Linked DNA regions of Homo sapiens. The protein of the gene in region 1 interacts with the protein of each later gene in a pairwise test. Each region holds a gene or a part of one and is shown in the gene's direction. Other genes may lie near its edges. The genes, in order: DVL3, VAX1, ZBTB47 and UTP3.

Region 1 (7,170 bases):
GAGTGTCGCTGTCACCCAGGCTGGAGTGCAGTGGCGTTGGGATTACAGGCATGGACCTGGTCTTAATTCAAGAATTTATTGTTGGCTGGGTACGGTGGTTCACACCTATAATCCCAGCACTTCGATAGGATCGCTTGAGCCAAGGAGTTTGAGGCTGCAGTGAGCCATGATTACCTCACTATACTCCAACCTGAGCAACAGAGCAAGGCCTTGTCTCAATAAACAGGTAAATAAAACAAAGGAGTAAAGTATCCAGGAAACAGATTCAACACAGAGACAGGTAAAGGGAATTTTGAGGATGCAGAGAAGTCCCAGGATGACAGCTGTGCACAGGCTGAGATAGCCGGCGGTGCAGACCAGAGCAAAAGAATGGAAGGTTCCACCAAGCGTGGTGGCTCACGCCTGTAATCCCAGCACTTTGAGAGGCTAAGGCGAGCGATCACCTGAGGTCAGGAGTTCCAGATCAGCCTGGCTAACATGGTGAGACCCTGTCTCTACTAAAAATACAATATTAGCTGGGCGTGGTGGCAGGCGCCTGTAATCCCAGCTACTTGGGAGGCTGAGGCAGGAGAATCACTTGAACCTGGGAGGCAGAGGTTGCAGTGAGCCGGAATCTCGCCACTGCACTCCAGCCTGGGCGACAGAGTGAGACTCCATCTAAAAAAAAAAAAAAAAAAAGATGGAAGCCTCCAGGGAAAAATTGAACTGATGGATTATCTAATAGCTTTGACTGAATGAACAAAATGTGTATTGAGAAACTATTAGATTACATGGGAAAAACTAATGATAGGTATAATATATTAAAACAAATGAAAACACAAGGCAATGATTAAAGTCAGAGGAAACAAAAAAGTTGTAAAGGAAACGATTATAAAACACACATGAGGCCAGCGCGGTGGCTCATGCCTGTAATCACAGCACTTTGGGAGGCCAAGGCAGGTGGATCACGAGGTCAAGAGATTGAGACCATCCTGGCCAACATGGTAAAACCCTGTCTCTACTAAAAATACAAAAATGAGTTGGGCAGGTATGGTGGCACATGCCTGTAATCCCAGCTACTCGGAGGCTGAGGCAGAATTATCGCTTGAACCCGGGAGGTGGAGGTTGCAATGAGCTGAGATCACATCACTGCACTCCAGCCTGGCGACAGAGTGAGACTCCATCAAAAACAAAAACAAAAACAAAACAAAAAAAACTCCACATGACTTAGCGGTGAACATTTGCTCATAGTCAAAATAAGGTCACTACTAAGTACTATATTGACTTAGCCAAAAAGTGTGCTTTCACTATTTTAAGAGGGAAGGGTAAGGTGGAAGACAGAGAATCATCAATCAAATTTGGAAATCAATAAGCAATGTCTAAAATGTATAAATCAAGAACAAGTATTATGAGCTAAAAAAAAGTACTAAGAGTGGTAGGGAAATAGGACAAAGAATTGCTCGGGTTTTTTGTTTTGTTTTTCTCACCACTATACCAATAAGGAGGACTGCTGTTTTGTTAAAAAGCTTTTTAAGGGCCAGGCACGGTGGCTCACACCTGTAATCCCAGCACTTTGGGAGGCCGAGGCAGGCAGATCACGAGATCAGGAGATCGAGACCATCCTGGCTAACACGGTGAAACCCCATCTCTACTACAAATGTAAAAAATTAGCCAGGTGTGGTGGCAGGCACCTGTAGTCCCAGCTACTCGGGAGGCTGAGGCAGGAGAATGGCATGAACCCGGGAGGCGGAGTTCACAGTGAGCCAAGATCGTGCCACTGCACTCCAGCCTGGGCGACAGAGCAACACTCCATCTCAAAAAAAAAAAAAAAAAAAAAAAAAAAAAAAAAAAGCCGGGCGTGGTGGCTTGCGCCTGTAGTCCCAGCACTTTGGGAGGCCGAGGCAGGTGGATCACGAGTTCAGATCAAGACCATCCTGTTTAACACAGTGAAACCCCGTCTCTACTAAAAAAAACACAAAAAATTTGGCGGGCGCCTGTGGTCCCAGCTGCTCGGGAGGCTGGCGTGAACTCAAGAGGCGGAGCTTGCAGTGAGCCGAGATTGTGCCACTGCACTCCACCCTGGGCGACAGAGTGAGACTCCATCTCAAAAAAAAAAAAAAAAAAAAAAAAAAAAAGCTGTTTAAATACTATTTGACTTCCAAACATATTACTTTGATAAAAAATGTAAAGAAGGTGAAGGAAAGGGTATGAAGTGACGATATACATAAGGTGTGTGCAGGGGCTAGCAAGTGGGTTCATTTTCCTGGAGTCAAAAATTTGGCCAGGATATGAGACAAAAGGCTGTAAAAGTAGGTAGAGGTTAGATTATGGGGGGCCTTGAATAGGGATATTTGGGGGCTTTGGGGAATGTGGAAAGGTTTCTGAGTAGAAGAGGTATCTGAATGATGTTGTTATTCTAGTGTTAATTTGGCAACAGTGTATAAAATGGAGTAGAAGGAGCCCATACTTAAGACCATAGCATCCAAGGCCCTATGTAATCTGGCGGGTCTATGTTTCCAGCCTCACCTAGGACTGTTCCTTTAGTCATGATGGCCTTCTTATTCCTCAAATGTAACATGTTTATTCCTGCCTTGAGCCTGTATATTGGCTGTGCCCTCTGCCTAGAAGGCTGTCACCCCAGATCTTCTCATAGCCACTTCATCCTTGCTATTTCTAGGTCTTTTTTTCTGGAAGAAGTTTTCTCTAACCAATCAGAAACCTCTTTCTCGTTTTGTTTTGGTTGTTTTGTTTTTGTTTTTGTTTGAGGCGGAGTCTCGCTCTGTCGCCCAGGCTGGAGTGCAGTGGTGGGATCTCGGCTCACTGCAAGCTCCACCTCCCGGGTTCAAGCGATTCTCCTGCCTCAGCCTCCCGAGTAGCTGGGACTACAGGCATGCGCCACCATGTCCAGCTAATTTTTGTATTTTTACTAGAGACGGGGTTTCACCATTTTGGCCAGGCTGGTCTCGAACTCCTAACCTCAGGTGATCCACCTGCCTCAGCCTCCCAAAATGTTGGAATTACAGGCATGAGCCATTGCGCCTGGCTTCCCCTGTCACTATCCCATCACTTTGTTTTACCTTCTTCATAGCAGTGGTCACTCTGAAGTTATGTATTTACAAGCCTATGTGCTTCCCTCCAGCTGAGGGAAGGTCCTGAGAGCAGCCTTGTCTGTCTCGCTATCGCTATATCTCATGCGATATGCCTTATACACAGTAGGCCTTCAGTATTTATTAAATGAATTAAAAGTTAAGGGGTGAGGAGATCTGTGAGGAACCGGCTATACCTAGTTCTGGAGTTCTGGTTTGAGACTTACTGTCTTAGGCATGCATGCATCCACTTATCTTTTTTTTTGGGGGGGGGCGAGGGGGGATGGAGTTTCACTTTTGTTGCCCAGGCTGGAGTGCAAAGGCAGGATCTCGACTCACCGATCTCGGCTCACCGCAACCTCCGCCGCCCGTGTTCAAGCGATTCTTCTGCCTCAGCCTCCCGAGTAGCTGAGATTACATGCATGCGCCACCACGCCCGGCTAATTTTTTTGTATTTTTAGTAGAGACAGGGTTTCTCCATGTTGGTCAGGCTGGTCTTGAACTCTCGACCTCGGGCGATCCGCCCGCCTTGGCCTCCCAAAGTGCTGGGATTAGAAGCGTGAGCCACCGCGCCCGGGCCCCACTTATTCCGCATTCAACCCATTTATTAAACCACTACCTTGCAACTGGACGCTAAGGTTATAGGGAGGAATCAGAACTGGATGCTGTCCTTCTCTCGAGATCAGTTTAGTAGACTCAGTGACAGCAGTTGTGCTTCTCAAGAAACACTGAAGGGCCATGTTGAGGTCATTCTCCTCCAGGGATCCAGAGTCAGACCCACCCTCTTTCCCCAGACCATTTCTGGGGACCAAAGCAATCCCTGCATTCCACTCTTCCTGGACTGCAGAGGAGTCGCCGATCCCACTTGGGTCCGGAGTCAGGGCCTTCAGGGGTCCGGGAACGCCGCCATCCCGGTGAATCTCCCCTTCCGTTTCTAGGGACCCGGGACCGGAGCGCCGCGGCCCGGCCAGTGGGCGGGAAACCCTGCCATCTGCCGCGACGCCGGCGCCTCTCCGCGGCGGCCGGGGGCGGGGCGCGCCGGGGCGGGGCCGCGCCGGGCCGGAGGAGGGGAGCGGGCCCGGACGAAGCCCTGGGCCGGGAGGGCCGCGGCCACCGGAAGAGTCGCGGTCGCCAGTCCAGTCGGGAGAGTGGGGAGCGGAAGCGGCGGCCGCGGCGGCGGCGGGCGGCGCTGGGACCCGGTAGCGGCCGGAGAACAAGGGAGCTGGCGCCGCCAGCAGCCGCCGAGCTGGGTTGAGCCGCTGGGCCGCGCCGCGCGCCGCCGCCGTCTGGGAGGCTCGGCCCGGCCGCCCGAGCAGGCCGCGCGCGGGCCGCCGGGCCCGAGGCCAGAGCCATGGGCGAGACCAAGATCATCTACCACTTGGATGGGCAGGAGACGCCGTACCTTGTGAAGCTGCCCCTGCCCGCCGAGCGCGTCACCTTGGCGGACTTTAAGGGCGTTTTGCAGCGACCCAGCTATAAGTTCTTCTTCAAGTCTATGGACGACGATTTCGGGTGAGGATGGCCCCCGCCCCGCCTCCGGGAGCCCCGGCCGCTCTGGCTTCTAAGGGATGACGCGGTCCGTTTCGACTTGCCTCGCTACACCGGCTCCTAGCCCCGCTCTGACTTCTAGGGGCGACTCGGCCCATTTGGGCCCCTTTGGTTCCAGCCCCAGTAGCAACTCCCGTTTACCTCTGAAGAGGGGACGTTGGCCTCCCTTGTTTAAGGGGACGTCCAATTCCCCACTAGCAATCAGAGTTCCTGCCGGTGCGGTCCCCTTACCTCTTCAGAGACCAGTGGCCCACAGAGACAGACACACCCCCCCTCCACCTAGTTTCAGAGCCCGAGTCCCCCATCCTCCTCCTGCCGAGGAGCCAGAGCCACCTTTTTCCGCACAGACTTGGGTCGTGTGGCCCTCGTTCTTCGCCCCCTTCATCTTTTCAGCAGCACAGCTCCCAGCCATATTTGGAGTATGCTGCATCTGAGGGCTCTGCTGGGACTTTGAGCTGGGGGAGGGGTGTCGGGGGTGCTCGGGCGCCTGGCCGCGAGCGGGGTCTGCAGATCTGATGTTTATCTAGCTGCCTGCCCTCTCCTTTGTGGGCTGTTGTGGGTGTTGTCACCGGAACAGAGAGCCTGACCCCTGCGGAGTAGTCCTCACTGACCCAGGTGCTGATCTTTCCTCCAATTCGGGCTTTTTTCCTCCAGTTGGTGGCCAGTGGAGAGACGTTAGGAAGGGCCTGGGGCCTGGGTGGGATAGCCAGGAAGAGTTTCTTGGTGTTCTCTATCTTCCCCTCCCTGGTGGGGTCTTCCCTTCCACCCAGCTGCAGAGATCTGGACAGGCACAGTTTGGAAGCAGTCACTTTCCCTTTAAGAGGGGATGGAATGTTGGAGCCGGAAGGTTCTGAAGCAGCTGGCCTGGGAAGAGGGGGGCCTGGCTGATCCCCCTCGAACCCCCCCAACTCCCAGGAGACTGGGGGAGGGGGAGGCGCCCACACTTGCCTGCCGCCTCACTAACTGGGCGCTGGGCCTGGAGGCGGTGGGGAAGGCCCCTCCAGGCCTGAAGGCTGCCTCTCCAGCCCTAGCCTGAGGCCTGCACTGCTCTTTGGAGCTGAGGCCCCACAGCCAAGAGGAGACATTCTTCTCCCCAGTGTTCATCTGTCTGGCTTCTCTCCCAAGCCCCTGGCCCACCTAGCACTAGGAAGCAAGCACCTTCTGTCTAATGCCTGGCATGTTTTGCTGTCACCTTCTGCCCTGGAACTCAGGGTTGGATGAGCCCCTGAAATCATGTGTGTGAGAGTGCTTTGTACAGTGGGCAGTGCTTTGTAGATTCTAACTATTCTTGTTTCTGTTGTTGTTCCTGCCCTGGGGTGGGGTGCTCCTGGTGTGATAATGATTGTCTGCCTTCAGCCCAGAGACAGACACCTCTAATTGGAAGATTCTGAGGAGGGATGGATCTAGAAGGGGTCTGGGTGAGGGGGTGGATACTTTGGCCTGGCAAGAGAAGAATAGGGTTAGAAGGGATCAAGCTACTGCCTCCACATAAGGAATGGGGGAAGATGAGCCAGAGTCCAGTGCCCTGGGGCCACCTCAGATCCAGATGCCTTGAGGGACTAAGATAGGCTGTCTCTCCACCCTGTACTTATCTCCAGACCCACTGGACCTGGCCCCTGCCTCCTAAGCCTGGACAACTCTGGGCTGCTCTCCCAATCCCAAGGCCTAACTGCAGTTTTAAGAGGGCCCCCATTACATCCAGTCACTGTTACTTAATATTTTTCTTTAAATCCATTGTCAGTCCACTTACTGTTTTTCTTAGCTTGAACCAAGCAATAATATGAAACCATAGGTCTGACTTTTCTGTTTATATTTCTTTCTAAAATATGTTTAACATAAATATTTAATGATTGAACTAAGCAATGTTAATCTGTGTGCCACCTGAAGCCATCTTGCAAACATCAGTGGTACTTGAACCAAAATCAGAGTTGGACCATTTTAGCAGGGTTGAAAACAGTATTAAAAATGAAGTGGAGGAGATGGATTCTGTTTGTATCCCCAGAAGGATAAATGAGCAGGGGAACTGATAGAGCTGTCTTGTCACAGAGGACTAATAGCTGAAGAGCATATATATATGTTTCATTTATTTAACACACGCCTTTTATGCTTAGTGTGCCAGGGACTAATCTAAATGCTTTTCAAATCTTCACTCATTTAATCTTCGAAACAGCCTTATGAAATAGATAGCGTAATAGTATCTCTAGTTTACAAATGAAACTCTGTCAGGCATGGTGGCTCACACCTGTAATCTCAGCAATTTGGGAGGCTGAGGTGGGAGGATTGCTTGAGGCCAGGAATCTGAGACCAGCCTTGGCAACATAGCAAGACCCCATCTCTACAAAAAAATTTTTTAATTAGCCAGGCATGATGCTTTGTGCCTGTAGTCCCAACTTGGGAGGCTGAGACAGGAGGATCACTTGAGCATAGGAGTTTGGGGCTGCAGTGAGCTGTGATGGTGCCACTGTACTCCAGCCTGGAAAATAGAGTGGGACCGTGTTTCAGAAAAAAAAAAAAAAGGAAACTAGAGCACAGAAAGCTTAAGTAACTTGCCTAAGGT
Region 2 (6,916 bases), on another chromosome or scaffold:
TCCTTTGGTGAGCCAGCTAGAAATGCAAATTCCTGGACACTGCTCTCAGATGATCATTCTGTAAGTTTGAAACCCAGGAAATGATTTTTTACTCACCCCCAATCAGCTAGTAGATGAGTGATAAACTCCTAATAAATGCTCATGGCCAGAAATAAATAGCATCATCAGAAACAAGAATTTCATGATTCCATTTCTACTTACTGTTGTTTAGATAAAATTTGTGAAAATTGATGTCTAATAATAAGGATTCCTCGCATTAACATTAAAGTCATTGCTCTGTGTCTTTTTGATACACACATGATCACCTGAAGATTTGGAAAATTCAAAGCAAGTATGGGTTTGGAACTAAAAATGGGGCAGTCTTGTGGGGTGTGGCAAAGAAGAGCATAAATAGCTTTGAAGTCAGGCAGAAGTCAATTCAAATTCTGCTCATACCAGTCTGTGTGACTTGGGCAAGTTACTGAACGTCTCTCTGAGTCTCCATTCTTTCACCTATAAAACCGGAATATTACTACATCTCTGAAGGAGGAGTTCAGATTAAGTGAGTTTATGCATCCAGTAAGTGACTGCTTCATAAATAATTCCCCTGGACACGTTGGCTCACGTCTGTACTCCCAGCTACTCAGGAGGTTGAGGTGGGAGGATCGCTTGAGCCTGGGAATTCGAGGCTACAGTGAGCCGTGATGGTGCTACTGCACTCCAGCCTGGGCGACAGAGCGAGAACCTGTCTCAAAAATAAGTAAGTTTAAAAAACAAACAAACAGGCTGGGCTTTGTGGCTCATGTCTGTAATCCCAGCACTTTGGGAGGCCAAGGCGGGCGGATCACGAGGTCAAGAGATCGAGACCATCCTGGCCAACATGGTGAAACCCTGTCTCCAATAAAAACACAAAAATTAGCTGGGCGTGGTGGCGCGCGCCTGTAGTCCCAGCTACTCAGGTGGCTGAGGCAGGAGAATCTCTTGAACTCGGGAGGCGAAGGTTGTAGTGAGCGTAGATCGCGCCATTGCACTCCAGCCTGGCGACAGAGTGAGACTCCGTCTCAGACAAACAACAAACAAACAAACAAATAGTTCCCCCTTACAACAAAATATGCCACAAGATGAGGGAGGGCAGAAATTTCCGAGGCCAAACTTAAAATTTGCATTTGGGATTTGGCCATACTTTGGCCGTTCTCTGTGGCAGTGAATGCGGCTGCAGACGTCCCAGCGCCGCCATTGCCCACAGGGCGTGTCATTTCTAAGGGCAGCTGTTTGTTCCCTGACTGCCCCCGCCCCGCCCCCCAGCTCCCCCATCTACCTAAAAGAAAATGTAATGGGTTGGGCCATTTTTATTTTTTAAAAAGCTTTCTTCCAGGTCTTTGACCGGGCGCCGCAGGTGTCCGCATGGGTTTCCCAGGCCGCTGCGGCCTTCACCGACAGAAGGAGGCCGTACAGAGGGGTGCGGCCGGGCCGGGGACCCAGAGCCATCTGGGTCCCATTTGGGCCAAGGCTGCGGTTTGGGACTTCCGCCGCCTGCAGGGCTCCTAAAGGGCTGAGGAAGGCCTAGAATCCTCCTGCGCACCCGATCTCGCGTAGTCCGAGGGTCCGACCCCTCCAACCCCTCCAGGGTAGGGGGCAAGGAAGGGCCGGTGTGCCAGGGAATTCGGTCGCACCCCTCCCTGCCCAAGGAGGCCCAGGAGCTCCCTCGGGCCGAGCTCTGCAGGGAAGTGAATGCCCCATCTGCTGCAGGGACCCCCATCAGGAGGACCCGAATCCCAGGGACCCGCACCCGCGACGCGGTAGTGGGAGTCAAGACCCGGCGGCTGCACCCCCGACGGCTTGGCCGCATGGGAGCAAAGCCCTCGGTGCCTCAAGGCGCCAGTCTGGGCTTTTGAGCGTTGCGGGAGGTAACAGGAGAGTTCGCCGGATTTTAACACAATCCCACTCTACATCTTCAGAACAGGGTGGCCGCAAAGTCCCTTACCCCTCTTACCCGTCTCTGCTCCCACCCGCCTCACCAACCCGCCGGAGCAGAGCTCGTAATCAAAGGCACTTTCCCCGGGCGCCCAGTCGGCGTCGGACTTCGAGGGCAGCGTGCGCAGCGAAGCCGGGCTGAGGGGCGATCAGCCCGCTGGGGACCCTGGAAACCCGCCGCCCTGCGGAGAGTAGCTCGGGACAGTTCCACCGCTCCGCCCAGTCAACTAAAGTGGAAGCCTGATGTCGGCCTGCAGGGCCAGAGATGCCCTCCGGAGCTGGGCCAAACCTGGGTGCCCCTAAGTGGCTGGAGGGGTGGCTGGGTGGACAGCGCGAAAGACCCCGCTCAGGGGGCCCCCTCCTGGCTTGGGACGGTAGAGGGGTCCCGCGGGGTGGCGGCGGAGGCAGGGGAGGTGGCGGCGGGGCGGGAGGTGCGGACGGTGCGCGCGTCGCTGCGAGCTGGAGCCCCTAGGGGCCCGCCACACACACTCGCACCCCTCCCCCTCCCGGCCTTCCTCCCACCCGCTCGCCGCGACCCCCTCCCCAACCCCCTCCCCTCCCCCCGCCTCCGCCCCATTCTTGGAATTGTGTGGAAAAATTCTCAGCCAAACCTCCCACCTCTCCTCTCCCCCCACCCACCCCCTTTAAAAAACCCCTTTCCTCCCCGGCCCCTGCACTCTTTGTGAATGAGGGCAGGGAACACGGCCCTTCCCCCGCCCAGGAGCCACGCCAGACCGCCGCACTCAGAGGACTGTTTGTTAATAGTCCAATTAGATAATTGCCATCTTTCACTCCTTTTGCTCCGCATTTCCCATAAAGGAATGAATGGGGAGAGCGGCGTGGAGAGGGCTTCTGCCCCGGCAAGGTGACGAGAAGGGCTGGAGCATGCTCCTTGCACAAGGCCATGCGCTTGAATTGAATCATTGTAGCCTAATCAATGCTCTTATTGGATTACTGGCTGTTGCTTTTCTCAAAGATATTGTAGCAGAGACAATGAAATAGCTAGGGGAAAACTTTTTTTTTTTTTTTTTGAAGCAGATCTCACAGTTGAGATTTCTCGGCCGTCTCTCCCTCTCCCCCTCTCTCTCCTGCTGGACTCTGAGTACAAAGCTGCCCTTTGAATGGGCTGCCTCAGGGCTGCTGGAGGTGCAGGCATGAAAAAATCCAACTGGAACTAAATGAAGAGAGGTGGCAGTTTAAGATGGCTGTCTGCGTCGAGGTGTGTTAAGAAGGAGTTGTTTAGGGGAAAATCTTGGCTTTTTTAGAGTGCAAGGGAGATACTTTTTGGGAAAACTTTCTCCCCCCGCTCTGTCCCCCATCCCCCACTCCCAGACAACTGCTTTCTTCTGCCGCAGGGTGCGCAGGGTTTTTTTTTTCTCCCCCCACACCCCCCCGCCGCCCAACCCTCATTCAGCTCTATCTGGCGAGTGTGGAGAAAACCCCTCTAGCCAGTATGTGAGCAGGAGGGTCAAAGGCAAAAGGAAAGTTAATAATGCCTGCTAATGGTACTAACAATTCAGGATGAATCTTGTCAAAAGTTTTTCTGGAAGTGTGGGTCTTTGATTGTGTGTTTCCTGAAAGCAAGACCAATCATTTCCGTTTATTCACTGGCTAAACCCCTACTTGATTGGGGACAAGGACAGAAACCATCCATTACGATCTGATATATTATCCAAACAATTTAGTGTATTCATGAGGTAACCGAAACGTGGGGGCTGCGAAATTACCCGTAATCAATTGCAACAGCGAGTGTGCGTCCCCCCGGGTGTCGGACAACTACAACTCGCCGTCTCAGAAACAGGCGGGAGCCGCAGCATTTCGGAGTTGCGCTGTTCGCTACCTGATCGCCAGGCTGGGGACACTGGACGTGCTCAGAGGACGCGGGTGCTGACGAGGCGGCCTCGCCGCAGCTCCACCAGGATCCTGGACCAGACTGGCCGCCTCTCGGCGAGCGCGCCACTCTCCCGTCGCCGCTGACCCGCGCGCGGCCGCCGAAGCCTCCCCGCGGGGACATTCATTCTTGCCCCTTGCCTGTCGCCGGGCCGGGCGTACGGGCCGCGTTGTCGGGGGTTTTGTCCCCTTTTTCCTCTTTTTTTTTTCCTTCTCCGCCCCCCCCCCTTTTTTTTTTTTTTGCTTTTTTTTTCCTTTCTGTTTTTGTTGTTGTTCTTGCCTATGTTCGGGAAACCAGACAAAATGGACGTTCGATGCCACTCGGACGCCGAGGCTGCCCGGGTCTCGAAGAACGCGCACAAGGAGAGTCGGGAGAGCAAGGGCGCGGAGGGGAACCTCCCAGCCGCCTTCCTCAAGGAGCCGCAGGGCGCCTTCTCAGCGTCGGGCGCTGCTGAGGATTGTAACAAAAGTAAATCCAATTCCGCAGCGGACCCGGATTACTGCCGCCGGATCCTGGTCCGAGGTAGGGATGGGCAGGGCTGCCAGGCGCGTTCTTTGGGGTCGACTCCGGGGCCGGAGCTGCGCGCTGCCGCCGACACAGGCCGGTGGGAAGGAGTGCCGGCTGGGACTTGGGAGAAAGTTGTTGGCCCTCCCCGCCCCGAGTCCGGCTGGGGACAAGCGCCTGGGACTCTCCGGTGCGCTCTCCAGGGGCCTCGGCCCTCCACGCCCGGAGGGGCCCCGCTGACCGGGCTGCGGGGGGAGATGAGGGGCTGCGCGGGTGCGGCCGGGCATCGGGCTGCGGCCTCCGACCCGGGAAAGGAGCAGAAAACTCCGGGAGGAGGTGTGCGCGCTCCAAGGGCCGGACGACCTGCCGGGAGCCGGCCAGGGGACTCCCGCGCTCTGGAGGGCTGAGCGCACCCAAGGGGGAACGCGAGCCCCGGAGAACAGCTGCCGATCGCGGGCTACGGCCCTGCCAGTTAGTGCACTGGGCCGAGGACCCCACGGCCGCGATCGGTGCCCGACCGCTGCCGCCGGGAGAGGCAGCTGGGCTTGGTTACGGAGCCGCGGTTGCCGCTTTGGTGCTCTGCTCTGCCGCTCTCGGATGGCGCGGCGTGCACTTAGCCCCGGCGGCGGAGGCTGCGAGGCCGGGCCCCGGCCCGGCGCCGCCCCAGCCAGCAGCAGATCTCCGGGCCCGGCCGGCCCCGACTCAGTCCCTCCTCCTTCCGCCGCGCGGACTCCGGAGGGAAGGAGACTCGAGGGTGGGGGTGGGGACGTCTGGATCACGGTCTGGTCGGCAAGCCCAGAGCTGGGGCCCGCAGGACCCGGGCGGGGCGACAAGGGTACCCTCAGGCTACAGGGGACCCGGAAGGCTCAGCCGAGGCCCCCCCAGGCCGGAAGAAACGTCCGCCTATGTGGAATTGATTGGATTTTTTTCTCTCCCCTGTCTGGAGGACTCTACAAAAAGACAAAGTGTGGTCCCTCCTTCGGTCAGCGGTATGGAGTTAGGCCCCTTGCCCTCCACACAGTGTCTTTGCTACCTGGTTGTGGTCGCGCTCCGCACCCCGCCCCCCATCCCCAAAACTGCACGCTTCTGGGGACTGTGTCCCCAAATCCAGCTCGGGCCAAGGAGGTGGAGGGGGACGGGAGGGTTCTGGCGGCTGACATCTCCCCTTCCCCAGATGCCAAGGGGTCCATCCGAGAGATCATCCTGCCCAAGGGCCTGGACTTGGACCGGCCTAAGAGGACGCGCACGTCCTTCACCGCGGAGCAGCTCTATCGGCTGGAGATGGAGTTCCAGCGCTGCCAGTACGTGGTGGGCCGCGAGAGGACCGAGCTCGCCCGGCAGCTTAACCTCTCCGAGACCCAGGTACCCGGCGACCAGGCCGCACACAGTTCTGCACCAGCCTTCCTCCCCACCACCCCTACCTAGCCTGCTCTTCACCTCCTAACCTGCTCTGGACAGAACTACCCTTGGGAGGTGGAGGAGATGGGAAGGATGGGTAAGACAGGCCTAAGGATTCCTTCCCCTAGATAATACATCCTTTCCCCCCACCATTCCTGCCATCCCCAAATCCTCCAGGGCCCATGTTTTATCCACCTTGGCCTAGGCCCAGAAGGCCCCAAATCCTGTCCTTTTGGAATTTTTATTGTCCCCCGGTTTTGAGCATTTCCTTCGAGCTTCTGCTCTACAAAGAACTGACTTTTGCCCTTGTTTGGGGTACCCCATTTTGGCTAGATTTCTAGGCCCCACCCCTTGTGGGCCCACCCAGCTGTACTCAGCGTCCAGGCCCATTCTACAGGAGTGAGGCTAGATCTAACACCCCCTGCCCCAGCACCATGGGTGATTCCCAGGAATTAGGTGTACGCCCTCCTGGAGATCTGCCTGTGCAGATCAGGCTGCCCTGACCCTTAAAGGAAGGCTTTCCCCATTCTGAGCTGGCCCCAGCCCTGAGCACCTAGGAGACCCTGTCTTCTGGGCCAGTGATGTGTGAGGTGTGTGATGGGAAGGAGATCTAGGACCCAGAAGCCAGTACTGCTGATTGTGCTTTAGATCTTTCCCTTTACATTAAATCCATATGATGCCCCTTGGAGCTGGCCATGTGGGCTCTGGGCCCAGGAGAGGACCCAAGAACTTGCCAAGTGGCATGTCACCAGCTTGGCCTAGCTACGGCAGCCTTCTTTCTGAAGACTGATCCTTTTCCCCATGCCCAACCCTGAAGCAGGTGGAGAGCATTTTAGGTCCGGGATCTGGGCTGAAAGCTGAGGACTGACAGAACAGATAGGGGTGTTCTTTTTGAGTTTGAGTTGGTATGGTAGCTTTTTCTATTCTCTCTGCTACTACTCCTCTTAGTTTATAAAATCTAGATAGGATAGTCTTTGCCTATTGCTGCAAAACTCTTCTGGGCCACTGCTAGGCCTGCAGAGGGGCAGAAGAATGAGAGGGGAGGTTAGTGGGGAATATTCAATCCACCTCAGCCTCCTGACTTTCTCCCATGATTCCAAGTTCATGACTCAGACCAGTGGAGAGATAAACTAAGAGTATCACCAGACCCTTCAATGCAGCTATCTGGTG
Region 3 (7,024 bases), about 140 Mb from region 1:
GGTGGCCCCTGGTGGCTCAGGGAGGCTCCTGCTGAGGCCCACGGTAGGTTTCTCATTCAGGTGACTGAGAAGTGGAGCTCAACCACCACCACCCCTGCCCAATCCCAGCCTACCCACTGCTCTCCTGGCGATGGAAGGCCTGGCATGGGGAAGGGGGGCGGTAGGCTGTGGATGGATGGGGCCAGGATTCATCCCAGGGTCCCCAGGGAGGCACTGACAGCTATGGAGCTGATGGTTTTGTGGCCATCAAAATATTGTGGCAAGGTACCTCCCGAATGCAGGAGGCTCAGACCTGGTTGGGCAGGCCCTGAGGAGAGCCAGAACTTGGAACCAGTGGTGCTGGTCCAGCTGGGCTGGTGGTTGGTGGATATTAACAACATCTGCACATCACTGTGTGATGGTTCTCGTGCAGGGACTGGGCAGGCTGCCTGTCTGTGCTGCCCACCTTTTGGGGAGGCTGCTGTGGTAGAGCCGGGGTGACTGAGTTGGCTTCTATTCCAGGCAATTCACAGGTGCTGGATGTGGCCCACAGGCCTGATAGTCTGACCCATCAGACATTGAGGGCCTCCGCTAGGGCTCTGGAAGCCCCAGATGGTGTGGCCTCTAAGGCAGGGCTTTCCCAGAGCCTGTGGACATGGACCGTACCTGACCTGGGGTCTGGGGGTCTACCGGGAAAAGGATCTGGGGCAGGCCTTGGGGGCCTCCTGCCTGCAAGCATGGTAGGCAGGTTCCACAGCTGTGTCCTTCCACCCCTGCAGAGCCCCTGAGTGAGAGAGAGCTGCTGGGGGCTAGGCCTGAGGCTGCAGGCAGGGGTTGGGGGCAGCCTGGCCCAAGCCCTGGCTGTGATGAGGAGACCTCACCAGGCAGTGCAGCAGGACCAGAGTGGGGAGAAGGTATAGGCCCTGAGCCTGGATTTCTTCACAGGTTTCAACTTCTGCAGCAGCCACATGGCTGTTGCGATGAGGGGTTCCCTCAGGTGCTACCCCTTGGATTCTGTAGCCAGAGACTGGGCAGTGAGCAGTGAGCCCGGCTTCTGTTCTTGAGGTGTTTGGGGCTGGGCAAGCTTGCTTTTATTGGTATGTGTGAGTGAATATGTGGAGAGAATCCACGGGGCTGAGGAAATGCTGAAGGAATGCCTGTGGCCCTCCTGGGGTGACCACCTGGTCCCGGTGTGCCTGCGATGGTCCTGGTTCTAGCACTGAAAGCCCTGCACCCCAGAAAATGCCCAGGTCCCTGGCAAACCTGGATGGTTGGTCACTGTGGTCTCTCTTTCATCCCCTTTCCTTCCCTTTCCCTTCCTGGGATGACTTTTCCCATTTCCCAGGAGATGACCCAGAGGCCCAGAAAGTGACAGGACCTGATCTTCAGCCTCAGAGGGTCACGAGTGGAGCCTGAGCTCTGAGGCAGCTCACTCAGGCTTGAATCCCTTCCTTGCTAGTTTCGGCTCTGTTGCTGTAAAGTGGAGCCACGAGTGATGGGCTGCCTCCTGGATGGCTGGCAATGCTGGGAGTGGTGCTGGGGGAAGGGCGGGCAGGGGCCCACTGGCCTTGACCCACTCCTGTGCCCTCTGTCCCCGCAGTTGCTGGTTGAGAAGACAACTGACTCCCCGGCGGCTGAGTTCTCGCTGGTGGAGGACGTGGCGCTGCACTTTGCCTGCTTGATGGGCCGCCTGAACGAGCAGCGCCTCTTCCAGCCTGACCTCTGCGACGTGGACTTGGTGCTGGTGCCCCAGCGCAGCGTCTTTCCGGCACACAAGGGTGTGCTAGCCGCCTACAGCCAGTTCTTCCACTCACTCTTCACCCAGAACAAGCAGCTGCAGCGTGTGGAGCTGTCCCTGGAGGCACTGGCACCTGGTGGCCTGCAGCAGATCCTCAACTTCATCTATACGTCCAAGCTGCTGGTCAACGCGGCCAACGTCCACGAGGTGCTCAGCGCCGCCTCATTGCTGCAGATGGCTGACATCGCTGCGTCCTGCCAAGAGCTGCTGGACGCCCGCTCTCTAGGCCCACCAGGTCCGGGCACTGTGGCCCTGGCCCAGCCGGCTGCCAGCTGCACTCCAGCTGCGCCGCCCTACTACTGTGACATCAAGCAGGAGGCCGACACCCCAGGCCTGCCCAAGATCTATGCCCGCGAGGGCCCTGACCCTTACTCGGTGCGTGTTGAGGACGGGGCAGGGACTGCTGGTGGCACAGTGCCTGCCACCATTGGGCCAGCCCAGCCCTTCTTTAAGGAGGAGAAGGAGGGTGGTGTCGAGGAGGCCGGTGGGCCCCCAGCCAGCTTGTGCAAGCTGGAGGGTGGAGAAGAGTTGGAGGAAGAGCTTGGGGGTTCTGGCACCTACAGCCGCAGGGAGCAATCCCAGATCATCGTGGAGGTGAACCTCAACAACCAGACACTGCACGTGTCCACGGGGCCAGAGGGGAAGCCAGGTGCCGGGCCAAGCCCAGCCACCGTGGTTCTGGGCCGGGAGGACGGGCTGCAGAGACACTCGGACGAGGAGGAGGAGGACGACGAGGAGGAGGAGGAGGAAGAAGAGGAAGAGGAAGGTGGTGGCAGTGGACGGGAGGAGGAGGAGGAGGAAGAGGGTGGCAGTCAGGGAGAAGAGGAAGAAGAGGAGGAGGACGGGCACAGTGAGCAGGAAGAGGAAGAGGAGGAGGAAGAGGAGGAAGGGCCTAGTGAGCAGGATCAAGAGAGCTCTGAGGAGGAGGAGGGGGAGGAGGGGGAGGCTGGGGGCAAGCAGGGGCCACGGGGAAGCCGAAGCAGCCGGGCAGACCCCCCTCCCCACAGTCACATGGCCACACGGTCCCGGGAGAACGCCCGGCGCCGGGGTACCCCTGAACCTGAAGAAGCTGGGCGGCGGGGTGGGAAGAGGCCAAAGCCACCCCCTGGAGTGGCCTCTGCATCGGCCCGAGGGCCGCCAGCCACTGATGGGCTGGGGGCCAAGGTGAAGCTGGAGGAGAAGCAGCACCATCCATGCCAGAAGTGCCCACGAGTTTTCAACAACCGCTGGTACCTGGAGAAACACATGAATGTGACCCACAGCCGCATGCAGATCTGCGACCAGTGCGGCAAGCGCTTCCTGCTGGAGAGCGAGCTGCTGCTGCACAGGCAGACAGACTGCGAGCGCAACATCCAGGTGGGCCTCACGTGGCTGGGGGCAGGGCAGAGGCTGTCCAGGTGGGGCTAGGCCATAACTGGGCTCTGGGCACCTAGTGTCTTGCTGACTGCATTACCTAGGTGGTCTGCGGAGACCAGACTTAGCCCCCAGACAGGCTGGCCCAGGCCCAGTTCTCAGGGTGGTTAGAGCTCAGGGGTAACATCAAGCCGAGCTTCCTGGGAGAGGTGGATAGAGTTGGGCGCATGAAGAGATGTGCAGAGGATTGGAACAAACAGTACCCTTGGCCAGAGGGACAAAGGGGACACATGGACTTGGGAGGATGAGAGTGGAGAGTTGTCTGAGCAGACAAGGCCAGAAGACAGGCCACTCTGGGTGGGATGAGTCAGACGGGGTTTTAACAAACACGGGGGCTGTAGGAAGGCCAGCAGGGCCACTGTGTATAGTTTCACAGGTTGTGCACTGCAGCAAGTGAGCACACGATGGGAGGAGGGGTTTGCCCAGAGGGATGCCATCCTCCACTTCCCACAAAAGTGCTGTATGGAGGAGGGGGCAGCCCAGCAGGAGGCAGCCCCCACTTTCAGCTCTTTGGGGATGCCAGCTCCCATGGGCCTGGGAAAAAGGGATTGGGTGAGAAATTTGGGAAGAGCAGAGGCTGCTGGGGTAAGCAGGGGAGCTGAGCTGGCTGCTGGGCCTTGAGCCAGCCTGAGTCTGTTTGTGCCAGCCTCACTTCTCAGGGTGGGGTGGCACAGGGCCAGCCAGGCTCCCACGGGTGGTTTTCACCTCTTCTGGCCCAGGAGAAGGGGGAAAGGTAGCAGGTAGGTGGGTGCTAATTGCCTGCGCTAATTGCTAATTGCAGTGCCCTGTGGAGAAAGTGTTACCCGGGGGTCACCTGCTATCCTGCCCCACCCTTGTGTACCTGTGCCCACTTGCCCGCCTGCTGGGCTGCCCTTTGATGCTCTAACTGCTGCGCACCTGAGTCTCCCTCCTGAAGGAAAAAGAAGCTTCTGCCCCATCCAACCTGAGTACCCTGACCAATTTCTGCCCAAGCCTTGGCCTAGCCTCCATCCCTGTGGGGTGTCCTGCATAGATGGGCAGGACAAGGGTCCAGGAGAACAAATGGGGGGATATGGTCCCCAAGATCCCCCACCACTCTCTGTGCCTGATGGGACCTTGAGCCTCCTGCTGTCCTCCTCAGCCAACGCCTCTGGGACTCATCCTCTTGGCGATATTCATGGTGTCATGGCACAGGTCCCAGCAGGAGGAGGCAGCAGTGATAATGGCTCACTCTGTGGGACCTGTTATCTCTGCGTGTAGCCTCCATACCAGAGGGCGCCCTTCAGCTAGTTGTCTGCCTTACCTCTATAGACAGACAAAGGGTGATGCCTTTGGAAGCCCTTGTTGAAATGAGCCCAGAGTGGGGAATTTCCTGGAAGAGGTGACCCCTGACCCTAGTTAACTCAAGGATGAAGGAGGACACCAGGCTGTGTGTTTGGGGGTGTTTAAGGAGTTTTCATCCCCAACCTTAGAAACATCAGAGCTGGCTGGCTGTTGGCATCAAGGGCTCTCCAGCATATTTCAAGTGGGAAAACTGAGGCCAGACGGGGGCAGTAGCTTGCCCAAGTCCAAGACCCTGGGGACTCAGGACCCAGGGCCTCAAGTCCTCTTATTCTGCAGTGTGTGACATGTGGCAAAGCTTTCAAGAAGCTTTGGTCCCTCCATGAGCATAACAAGATTGTGCACGGCTACGCAGAGAAGAAGTTCTCATGCGAGATCTGTGAGAAGAAGTTCTACACCATGGCCCACGTGCGTAAGCACATGGTTGGTAAGTCTGGGCCACTGGGGGATGGAGCCAGAGGATAGAGATGGACCAGCTTCTGGCTGGTGGATGGGAAAGACTTCACATCCAAGGGCAATGTGAAGGGGTGAGGAGGCCCCTCTCAGCTAGGAGGCCTGGGGAGGTTGGTTCCAGTGGCAGGTGTAGCCTGGACAGGCTCTGGGGCCAGGGCTGGCATGTACAGTTGGGCAGGCTGCACATTGCACAAGGGTGCCTGGACAAGATGGCAGGTGGGAACCGGAATCAAGCTGGCACACTGCTAACCAGGCTGTGCATCCTGGCACGGGCTCGTGTCCACCCAGGGAAAAGAATACCTTTTCCTAATTATACAAAGTGCTGTATGGGCTGGTACAGGCCCTGTGTCAGTTTGATGACAGCTGTGCCTCTGATTCTTTCTTACCTTCTGGTCCTCATAGGGCTTCAGGCCTCTCTGAATGCAGCCTCCCCTCAGGGTTCATGCCTGGACACAGTAAGGAGGTCCCCCAATTGTGTGTTTTGGCCACGCCACTGCCCCAGGCAAGGCTGCCCACCTGCTGTATGTGGGCCTGGCAGAGCCTCATGTCCCTACAGCCCTGCCTTCCTTGCCCGCTCCAAGTCTGGGCCTTGAGGGGGAGGGGTAGCCAAGGCAGACAGTGAGCCCCTGGCCAGGTCCTAATCCCTTTCTCCATGAGACAGTGCTGGGGGCCCTCCAGCATGAACTGACTGGAAGCTGGGACCCTGCGGCCTAGGTCTCAGCCAGGAGCATGCTGGGTAAACCAGGACTGGTGTCTGTGAGCTTGAAGGTGAGCCTTCTGTCTCCAGTGGCCACCTACCAGATCCTTGAAGAGTTTGTTAGTCCTCACCCATCCGTGGGTGCTGGGAGGAGTGCAGCTAACTTCCTCCAGACTGCTGGCTAGGGCCTGAGACCAGGGCCTTTCTGCATATGTCCCCTCTAAAGCCCACCACCCCTGAAGCTCAGGACCACTATGAGTCCCTTTTTATAGGAGAGGAAGCGGAGGTCCAGAGAGACTGAGTGGGAAGCCAGTGGTCGGGCCGGGATTTGAGCTGAAGCCAGGTCCACCCAGGGTCCTTCCATCCTTCCCTGAAGCTTTGGGGGCAAGGCAGCCTTGGCCACTTCCCTTGACCAGAGGCTAAAGAACCACAGAGCCCCAGCATGTCTGAGGCAGACCTTCAGAGCAGATAGGAGACCCAGCCATGGAGGCAGGGGGCCTCTCCTGGGAATCAGCACAGGTCCTGGGACAGAGTATAAGGCCAGCCCCAGAGAAGGGTGGTGGCACAGGGCTGCCCCAGGAGGCAGGGTCTGGGCCCAACGTCGGGGTGCTTGGGCAGGCCCGTAAAACATGATGGCCCTGGTGCCCACCTCGTAGCCCACACCAAGGACATGCCCTTCACCTGCGAGACCTGCGGAAAGTCCTTCAAGCGCAGCATGTCCCTCAAGGTGCACTCACTGCAGCACTCAGGGGAGAAGCCGTTCAGATGTGAGGTGAGCTTCCATCTCCTGCCTGGCCTGCCCGAGGGGTCACCTGGGAGGGGCAGGAATCAGGGAGCGCAGCTGCTGAAAAACAAAGGGCTAGGGGGTGGAATGTAGTGTCCAGAAAGAGAGAGCCCTGCCCTCTGAGGTCTGCAGCCCCTGCCTCCCACTCCCACCCAGCCCCTACTCTTCTCTGGCCCACTCCCATCCTGCCCTTCCTTCCCCAACCCAGCCCCACACACTCAGGGTGGGAAGTGTGTGTGGGCTACAGCCCTAGGAGCAGGCTTTCTGGGGAGGCAGATTCAGGAGCATCCCAGGCCTGGAGCTCAGATGAGACAACAGAGCTGCAGGTGGGGAGGTGGGGGCAGGGGCTGGGCGTCTGATCAGGAGGAAGGATGAGGGACCTCGTGCCTTAAGCATGGGGCTCCCTCTACTCTCTGGCTTTTTCCCACTTCCGACCCCCATTCCCCACCTAAGCCTTGGGTGCTTGTGGCCTCTCCTCTTGTGCCCATGTACTGCCCACCCAGATGCACCTCGGCTTGCCCTCATGTCCCCATCTCCTTGCCCAGGAGCCCCTGAGTGTGTCCCTCCTTGGCCCTGTGGC
Region 4 (7,037 bases), on another chromosome or scaffold:
ATTTTTTGTTTGCTCATTTGTTTTTTAATTAAATCTCAGGTGCAGTTAATTATTCTCCTCAGTTCCTGACATTATTATTGGTCTGTGGAAATGTCCTCTTCTATTCCTTTTAATCTCCAACCCTTATCCCATTCTTCATCTTCCACAAACAGCTATTCTTTTGTGTTTAATGTATATTATTTTGTTTGATTATATTCCTACAAAATGTGTATTGTTACATTATTGTGCCTGCATTTTTAATTTTTGTGAATGGTATATTATTTATTACATTCTATTTTTTACTTTTTTCCCTTAGCACATTGTTTTAAAAATCCATTCATGTTGCCATATGGATATATAATCTACTGCTTCCAATTACTATATAGTTAAAATCACTATAAAATGTATCATCTTAGCCAGGCATGGTGGCTCAAGCCTGTAATCCCAGCACTTTGGGAGGACAAGGGGTGGATCACCTGAGGTCAGTAGTTCGAGACCAGCCTGGCCAACATGGTGAAACCCCGTCTCTACTAAAAATACAAAAATCAGCCAGGCGTGGTGGCAGGCACCTGTAATACCAGCTACTCGGGAGGCTGAGGTGGGAGAATTTCTTGACTCTGGGAGGCGGAGGTTGCAGTGAGCTGAGATCGCACCATTGCACTCCAGCCTGGGTGACAACAGTGAAACTCTGTCTCAAAAAAAAAAATTATCATCTTAATCATGAGAGTGAAAGGAGGTGCTATTAATAATTACACTGGGATAACAGGTTAAACAGGGCCATCCAGGGCAAGCCAGAATGTATGATCACCCTATGCTCCTAAATTCCATGCTGTTCTTCCACAACATTTTATTGATCTGCTCTTCCAGTGACGGATATCCAGGTTGTCTCTAACTCGCTGCTACCAAAAATAACTTTTCAAATAGCTTCGCACAGGTCCCCTTATGGATGGGCTTATGTGAGAATTTCTTAACCAAAAAGATATCTGCAATGATTTATAAATTTCTGATACAGGTAATTCTGAACACCCAGAAGATTGGTAAAGTGACAAATGAGAATAAAGCATAGTAGAGTACTTAGCTTAGCATTGAAGGTTTTTGTAGTAATGAAAGGTATGACTGGAAAGGTTGTTTTGGGGTAAAACTTTAGGACAGCCATGTATGCTGTAAATTTTGTTAGTAAACGAAAGTTTTTACTATCTGGATAGTAAATGAAAGTTTCTGAACCAGGATATGCGGTGACAGAAATGATATTCTAGGAAGATATATCTGATGTACCAGATCAAATGTACCAGAGACTAAAAGGAGGAGACCTATTAAAGGAAAAGTTGAAAGCCAGTATAGTATAGTAGTTAGTTATAGCACAACATGGATTCTGAAGCTGGACTGTTCTAGTTTAAATCTAGTTCTAACACTTATTAGCTTTATGACCTCACTTAAGCTATATGCGCCTAATTTTCTCATCTCCAATTACAGATTATTATAGTAACTTTTCACAGGGTTATAATGGTTTCAAGAGCTTGTAATGGTATCTAGCACACAATAACCACTCTCAATGTTAGCTATTATTAATTATAATTGTTTCAATAGTCCAGGAAGAAATAAAGATTAGTTTAAGCTAATGTGATCATACAATACCTCCAACACCCAGAATAAATGCCCTGAAAGAAGTATCCTAATGTATCATCACCTAATGTGTCATTCATAGACTCCCTAATTTCCATAGTAAGAAAATCCCATAAAGGGCTTAGAGTAAGGCAAAAACAATTTTTTTTTAACCTGCTGGCTCTCATTAGTGTAACTTGCTAACTCCTGAGCCAGACATCACAATAAAATAAAGATTCAGATTGGCTGGGTGCGATGGCTCACACCTGCAATCCCAGCACTTTGGGAGGCTGAGGTGGGCAGATCACCTGAGGTCAGGAGTTTGAGACCAGCCTGGCTAACATGGTGAAACCCCATCTCTACTAAAAAAAAAAAAAAAAAAAACACACAAAAAAATTACCCAGGTGTGGTGGCAGGTGCCTGTAATCCCAGCTACGTGGGAGGCTGAGGCAGGAGAATCAATTGTTCTTTATCAAAAGGATCTGAAAAACTGGGTGAAGCGGCACGCACCTTTAGTCCCAGCTACTCAGGAGGCTGAGGCAGGAGATCACTTAAGCCCAGGAGTTCTACCCAGCCTGGGGAACACAGCAGGCACCTGTCTCTAAAAACAAAGGATCTGAGAATGTTAGAATACGATACTCTCTGAATATGCATTGAATACTGCAACTCTGTTCTGGTTAGGAAATTTAACATTTAGTATAAACTAAATAATATTAATGTGATCATTCCCATTTAAAATATCCAAAATATTTTTCTAACTTATATATAATAGTATATGCATTTTAGTCTTGAAGTCTGACACTAAATTCTCAAATAATTTGCAATAAAAATGAAAAATTTTTATTTATGTGCCTAAATGCAACAGTGTTTAAATAATGAAAATTTAACATTTAAAGTAAGGAAATAACTACAATTCCAGCATAGATGTCATATTCTTTAAGCAATATTCCCAAAACAGCAATCTAAAGGTTATCTCTTATCCTTCTGTTCTCTTACAGCACCGGGTTTACATCATACACTGCCTTGTATTCCAGTAATCTGTATGAGTGTCTTCTTTTCTACCTGATTATACAGTCCTTAACTGGCTGATTCATCACTATTGTCTGTAGCATTCTACAACAAACAGTAAGCAGTTAATATCTGCTAAATGACAAAATGTACTAAAATTTACATTAAAAAATAAATTCATGCTTACCATCAGAACATAACTTTTGCCCACAACTTTCTAATTTAATTTTATTTTCTAAAATCTTGTAAAAATTTCAAAATGTTTCGGACACCTTTAGGCACTTGGAAAATGTTTATTTCAAAGTATCACTTTTCTAACATTTTGCATTATTTTTATTAACCTAATGACACTATACTTTCTGAAAAGAAATTGTCACCATTGGCTGGGCGCGGTGACTCACGCCTGTAATCAATCCCAGCACTTTGGGAGGCCGAGGCGGGCGTATCACGAGGTCAGGAGATGGAGACCATCCTGGCCAACATGATGAAACCCCGTCTCTACTAAAAATACAAAAATTAGCTGGGAGTGGTGGCGCGTGCCTGTAATGCCAGCTACTCGGGAGGCTGAGGGAGGAGAATCACTTGAACCAGGGGGTCGGAGGTTGCAGTGGGCCGAGATTGCCACTGCACTCCAGCCTGGCAACAGAGCGAGCCTCCGTCTCAAAAAAAAAAAAAGAAAAAAAGAAAAAGAAAAAAGAAACAAAAAACAAAAGAAAAAGAAATTGTCACCATTAATTTTATTTTATTTATTTATTTATTTATTTTGAGACAGAGTCTCTGTCTGTCGCCCAGGCTAGAGTGCAGTGGTGCGATATCGGCTTACTGCCACCTCCGCCTCCCGGGTTCAAGTGATTCTCCTGCCTCAACCTCCCGAGTAGCTGGGATTACAGGTACCCGCCACCACGCCCCGCTAATTTTTTGTATTTGTAGTAGAGACTGGGTTTCCCCATGTTGGCCAGGCTGGTTTTGCACTCCTGACCTCAAGTGATCCACCCACTTCGGCCTCCCAAAGTGCTTAGGATTATGGGCATGAGCCACCGCGCCCAGCCATGTCACCATTAATTTTAGCAACGTATCAAAAGTTCAGCTTCCAACTACCTACATTAAAAGGTATAATAATACTAACCCTGAACCTTACATATGTAATGCCTAAAAACTTACACCCTGAATTACTCTAACATTACAGGGCAGACTTCCTTGAGAAGAGTCAGACCCTGCAGCGGGGCTCTGCCTTCCCACTGTCAGCCTCGGGGTCATCTAGCTTTATCGATCCCCATGGAGCGGGTCACCGAGCCCTGTGAGCAGGGAGAGGGCGATGGGGATGAGTAAACCCGAGCCGGAGGCCCGGCCTGCGCTCTCGCCCGGAAACCTCCCGTGGGATTCTGGAGTCCAGCGGCGCTGCCTGAGGCTGTGGTACCCAGAAATATGGTATTGGGGGTGGGGGTGAAATGAGAGGAAAGCAATCTGATTAACTTCCAGCCTGATAAGCAGAAAAGAGAAAACAAGGGAGCAGGAAAACTACGCTAGCACTAGACTGCCGGTCGCAAGCGCCGGGTACACACGCAGTTAAACCTCAATGGAACGCCCCCGGGACTTCTCCGGGGCGTAAAGCGCAGCGCCCTCTATTGGCCATCGGGACCTCGCCTGGAGGTGCCGTCAGGATTCCGTCCCCCAGCCACTCCCAGGCACTCGAGAGTAAGCGCATTAGCCCGAGAAAGCGTTCTGTGGAACGGAACTTCCTTATCCTATCGTTTCCACACGGAAAGATTTTAATTCACCGGAATCGACTGGCGTTAAAGGGCACAGTGAAAAGGAAGTTGGTATCAACGTGATCTCGACTAAGGGACCGAGCGGAAGTCCTCAATCGTACGCCACGCGGAGAGCATGCTGGGGGCCGGAAGGAAGAGGAAATTCCAGTAGCCGATCAGGAGTCTGCAAACTCCGGTGGTAGGGGAGCGCGCTGCTGTTTAGAGCCACGAGTTACCGGAGCGCCTGATTCCTGCGCCGAAGTCAGTGGTGGCCGAAAGTCCGGAGTCGCTGTAAAACCTGAGATTGTGAGCCATGGTGGGGAGATCCCGGCGGCGCGGAGCAGCTAAGTGGGCAGCTGTGCGAGCCAAGGCAGGTCCCACGCTCACCGACGAAAATGGAGATGATTTAGGATTGCCACCCTCACCAGGGGACACCAGCTACTACCAAGATCAGGTAGATGACTTTCATGAGGCACGATCCCGGGCCGCCTTAGCTAAGGGCTGGAATGAAGTACAGAGTGGAGACGAGGAGGATGGCGAGGAGGAGGAGGAGGAGGTGCTAGCCCTAGATATGGACGATGAGGACGACGAAGATGGAGGGAATGCGGGGGAGGAGGAGGAGGAGGAGAATGCCGATGATGATGGTGGGAGCTCCGTGCAAAGTGAAGCTGAGGCCTCTGTGGATCCCAGTTTGTCGTGGGGTCAGAGGAAAAAACTTTACTATGACACGGACTATGGTTCCAAGTCCCGAGGCCGGCAGAGTCAACAGGAGGCAGAGGAGGAGGAAAGAGAGGAGGAGGAGGAGGCACAGATCATTCAGCGGCGCCTAGCCCAAGCGCTGCAAGAGGATGATTTTGGTGTCGCCTGGGTTGAGGCCTTTGCAAAACCAGTGCCTCAGGTAGATGAGGCTGAGACACGGGTCGTGAAGGATTTGGCTAAAGTTTCAGTGAAAGAGAAGCTGAAAATGTTGCGAAAGGAATCACCAGAACTCTTGGAGCTGATAGAAGACCTGAAAGTCAAGTTGACAGAGGTTAAGGATGAGCTGGAGCCATTGTTAGAGTTGGTGGAACAAGGGATCATTCCACCCGGAAAAGGAAGCCAATACTTGAGGACCAAGTACAACCTCTACTTGAATTATTGCTCGAACATCAGTTTTTATTTGATCCTGAAAGCTAGGAGAGTCCCAGCACATGGACATCCTGTCATAGAAAGGCTTGTTACCTACCGAAATTTGATCAACAAGCTGTCCGTTGTGGATCAGAAGCTGTCCTCAGAAATTCGTCATCTGTTGACACTTAAGGATGATGCTGTAAAGAAAGAACTGATTCCAAAAGCAAAATCCACCAAGCCCAAACCAAAGTCTGTTTCAAAGACTTCTGCTGCTGCCTGTGCTGTTACAGATCTTTCTGATGATTCTGATTTTGATGAAAAAGCAAAACTGAAGTACTATAAAGAAATAGAAGACAGGCAAAAGCTAAAGAGAAAGAAAGAAGAAAATAGCACTGAAGAACAGGCTCTTGAAGATCAAAATGCAAAGAGAGCTATTACCTATCAAATTGCTAAAAATAGGGGACTTACTCCTAGGAGAAAGAAGATTGATCGCAATCCCAGAGTGAAACACAGAGAGAAGTTCAGAAGAGCCAAAATTAGAAGAAGAGGCCAGGTTCGTGAAGTTCGTAAAGAAGAGCAACGTTATAGTGGTGAATTATCTGGCATTCGTGCAGGAGTTAAAAAGAGCATTAAGCTTAAATGAAGTTTTTGCTTAGCATAAGGTTTTTGGCAGTTTTGGATCAATAAATTTTTACTTTTAACTAAAGTCATTGTATTAATATATAATACTTTAAATTTTAAAAATTCTTGTCCACAAGGAAATTTGTCTGGGTTATTGGACAATTTATAAGAACTATGGGAGCAATATGAAGGTGCTTGAGAAAAGAGATGATGTTGAAGTTTTCCAATATTCTGTTGAAGTTTTCCAATATTAAGTATTAGCTTAGGGAAATTTCACAGTTCATTGTGGAGTGTTAAACTTAGAACATGTGTAACTTTTCACATAAAGAGAATGCATCTTTGACAGTTATCTTATTTGTAAGGCAGCCTATAAAATAGTTCTGAAGTATTTTATTTACCTAACTATAATTATTGGGCCAGATACTTGTTAATAAATGGGCTTAATGTTAACATGGATTTCATATGTTCTGTGTGGTTTAAAAGCATAGGAATGAAACTTTGGTTAAAAGCAGAAAAAGGAAAAGATATGCCTTAATTACATCAATTGTCAATATTTTCTCATAGTTCTTCATGTGGCAAATAAGGTAAAAATCCCATTTCCCCTTCTTTACTGGTGATTTGCAGTGGTTGCTGCTTGTACTTGCACTCCATTTGCTAAAACTTTGATATGATTACTACCAGGTAAGTGGTAACTTTAAGTGGCAACAAAGTTCCATTTTTCTTTTTTTTTTTTTTCGAGATTGAAGTCTCACTCTGTAGCCCAGGCTGGAGTGCAGTGGCAGGATCTCTCAGCTCACTGCAACCTCCACCTCCCGGGTTCAAGCGATTCTCCTGCCTCAGCCTCCTGAGTAGCTGGGATTACAGGTGCTTGCCACCACGCCCAGCTAATTTTTGTATTGCTAGTTGAGACAGGGTTTCACCATTTTGGCCAGGCTGGTCTCGACCTCCTGACCTCAAGTGATCTGCCCG

What was found.
Region 2: the proteins of DVL3 (region 1) and VAX1 interact in binary tests that used the Homo sapiens proteins (3 or more experiments, as listed by UniProt).
Region 3: the proteins of DVL3 (region 1) and ZBTB47 interact in binary tests that used the Homo sapiens proteins (3 or more experiments, as listed by UniProt).
Region 4: the proteins of DVL3 (region 1) and UTP3 interact in binary tests that used the Homo sapiens proteins (3 or more experiments, as listed by UniProt).

Annotation. Positions count from the first base shown.
Region 1 is NC_000003.12:184,151,220-184,158,389, forward strand, and holds the start of DVL3 (segment polarity protein dishevelled homolog DVL-3), read left to right. Parts: upstream 1-4,157; 5' UTR 4,158-4,416; coding exon 4,417-4,577; intron 4,578-7,170. UniProt on the Homo sapiens protein: Involved in the signal transduction pathway mediated by multiple Wnt genes.
Region 2 is NC_000010.11:117,135,266-117,142,181, reverse strand, and holds the start of VAX1 (ventral anterior homeobox 1), read left to right. Parts: upstream 1-3,911; 5' UTR 3,912-4,125; coding exon 4,126-4,366; intron 4,367-5,522; coding exon 5,523-5,710; intron 5,711-6,916. UniProt on the Homo sapiens protein: Transcription factor that may function in dorsoventral specification of the forebrain. Required for axon guidance and major tract formation in the developing forebrain.
Region 3 is NC_000003.12:42,656,696-42,663,719, forward strand, and holds part of ZBTB47 (zinc finger and BTB domain-containing protein 47), read left to right. Parts: intron 1-1,579; coding exon of another isoform or gene 1,580-1,660; coding exon 1,661-3,133; intron 3,134-4,789; coding exon 4,790-4,937; intron 4,938-6,316; coding exon 6,317-6,432; intron 6,433-7,024. UniProt on the Homo sapiens protein: May be involved in transcriptional regulation.
Region 4 is NC_000004.12:70,684,028-70,691,064, forward strand, and holds UTP3 (something about silencing protein 10), read left to right. Parts: upstream 1-4,504; 5' UTR 4,505-4,650; coding exon 4,651-6,090; 3' UTR 6,091-6,524; downstream 6,525-7,037. UniProt on the Homo sapiens protein: Essential for gene silencing: has a role in the structure of silenced chromatin. Plays a role in the developing brain. Part of the small subunit (SSU) processome, first precursor of the small eukaryotic ribosomal subunit.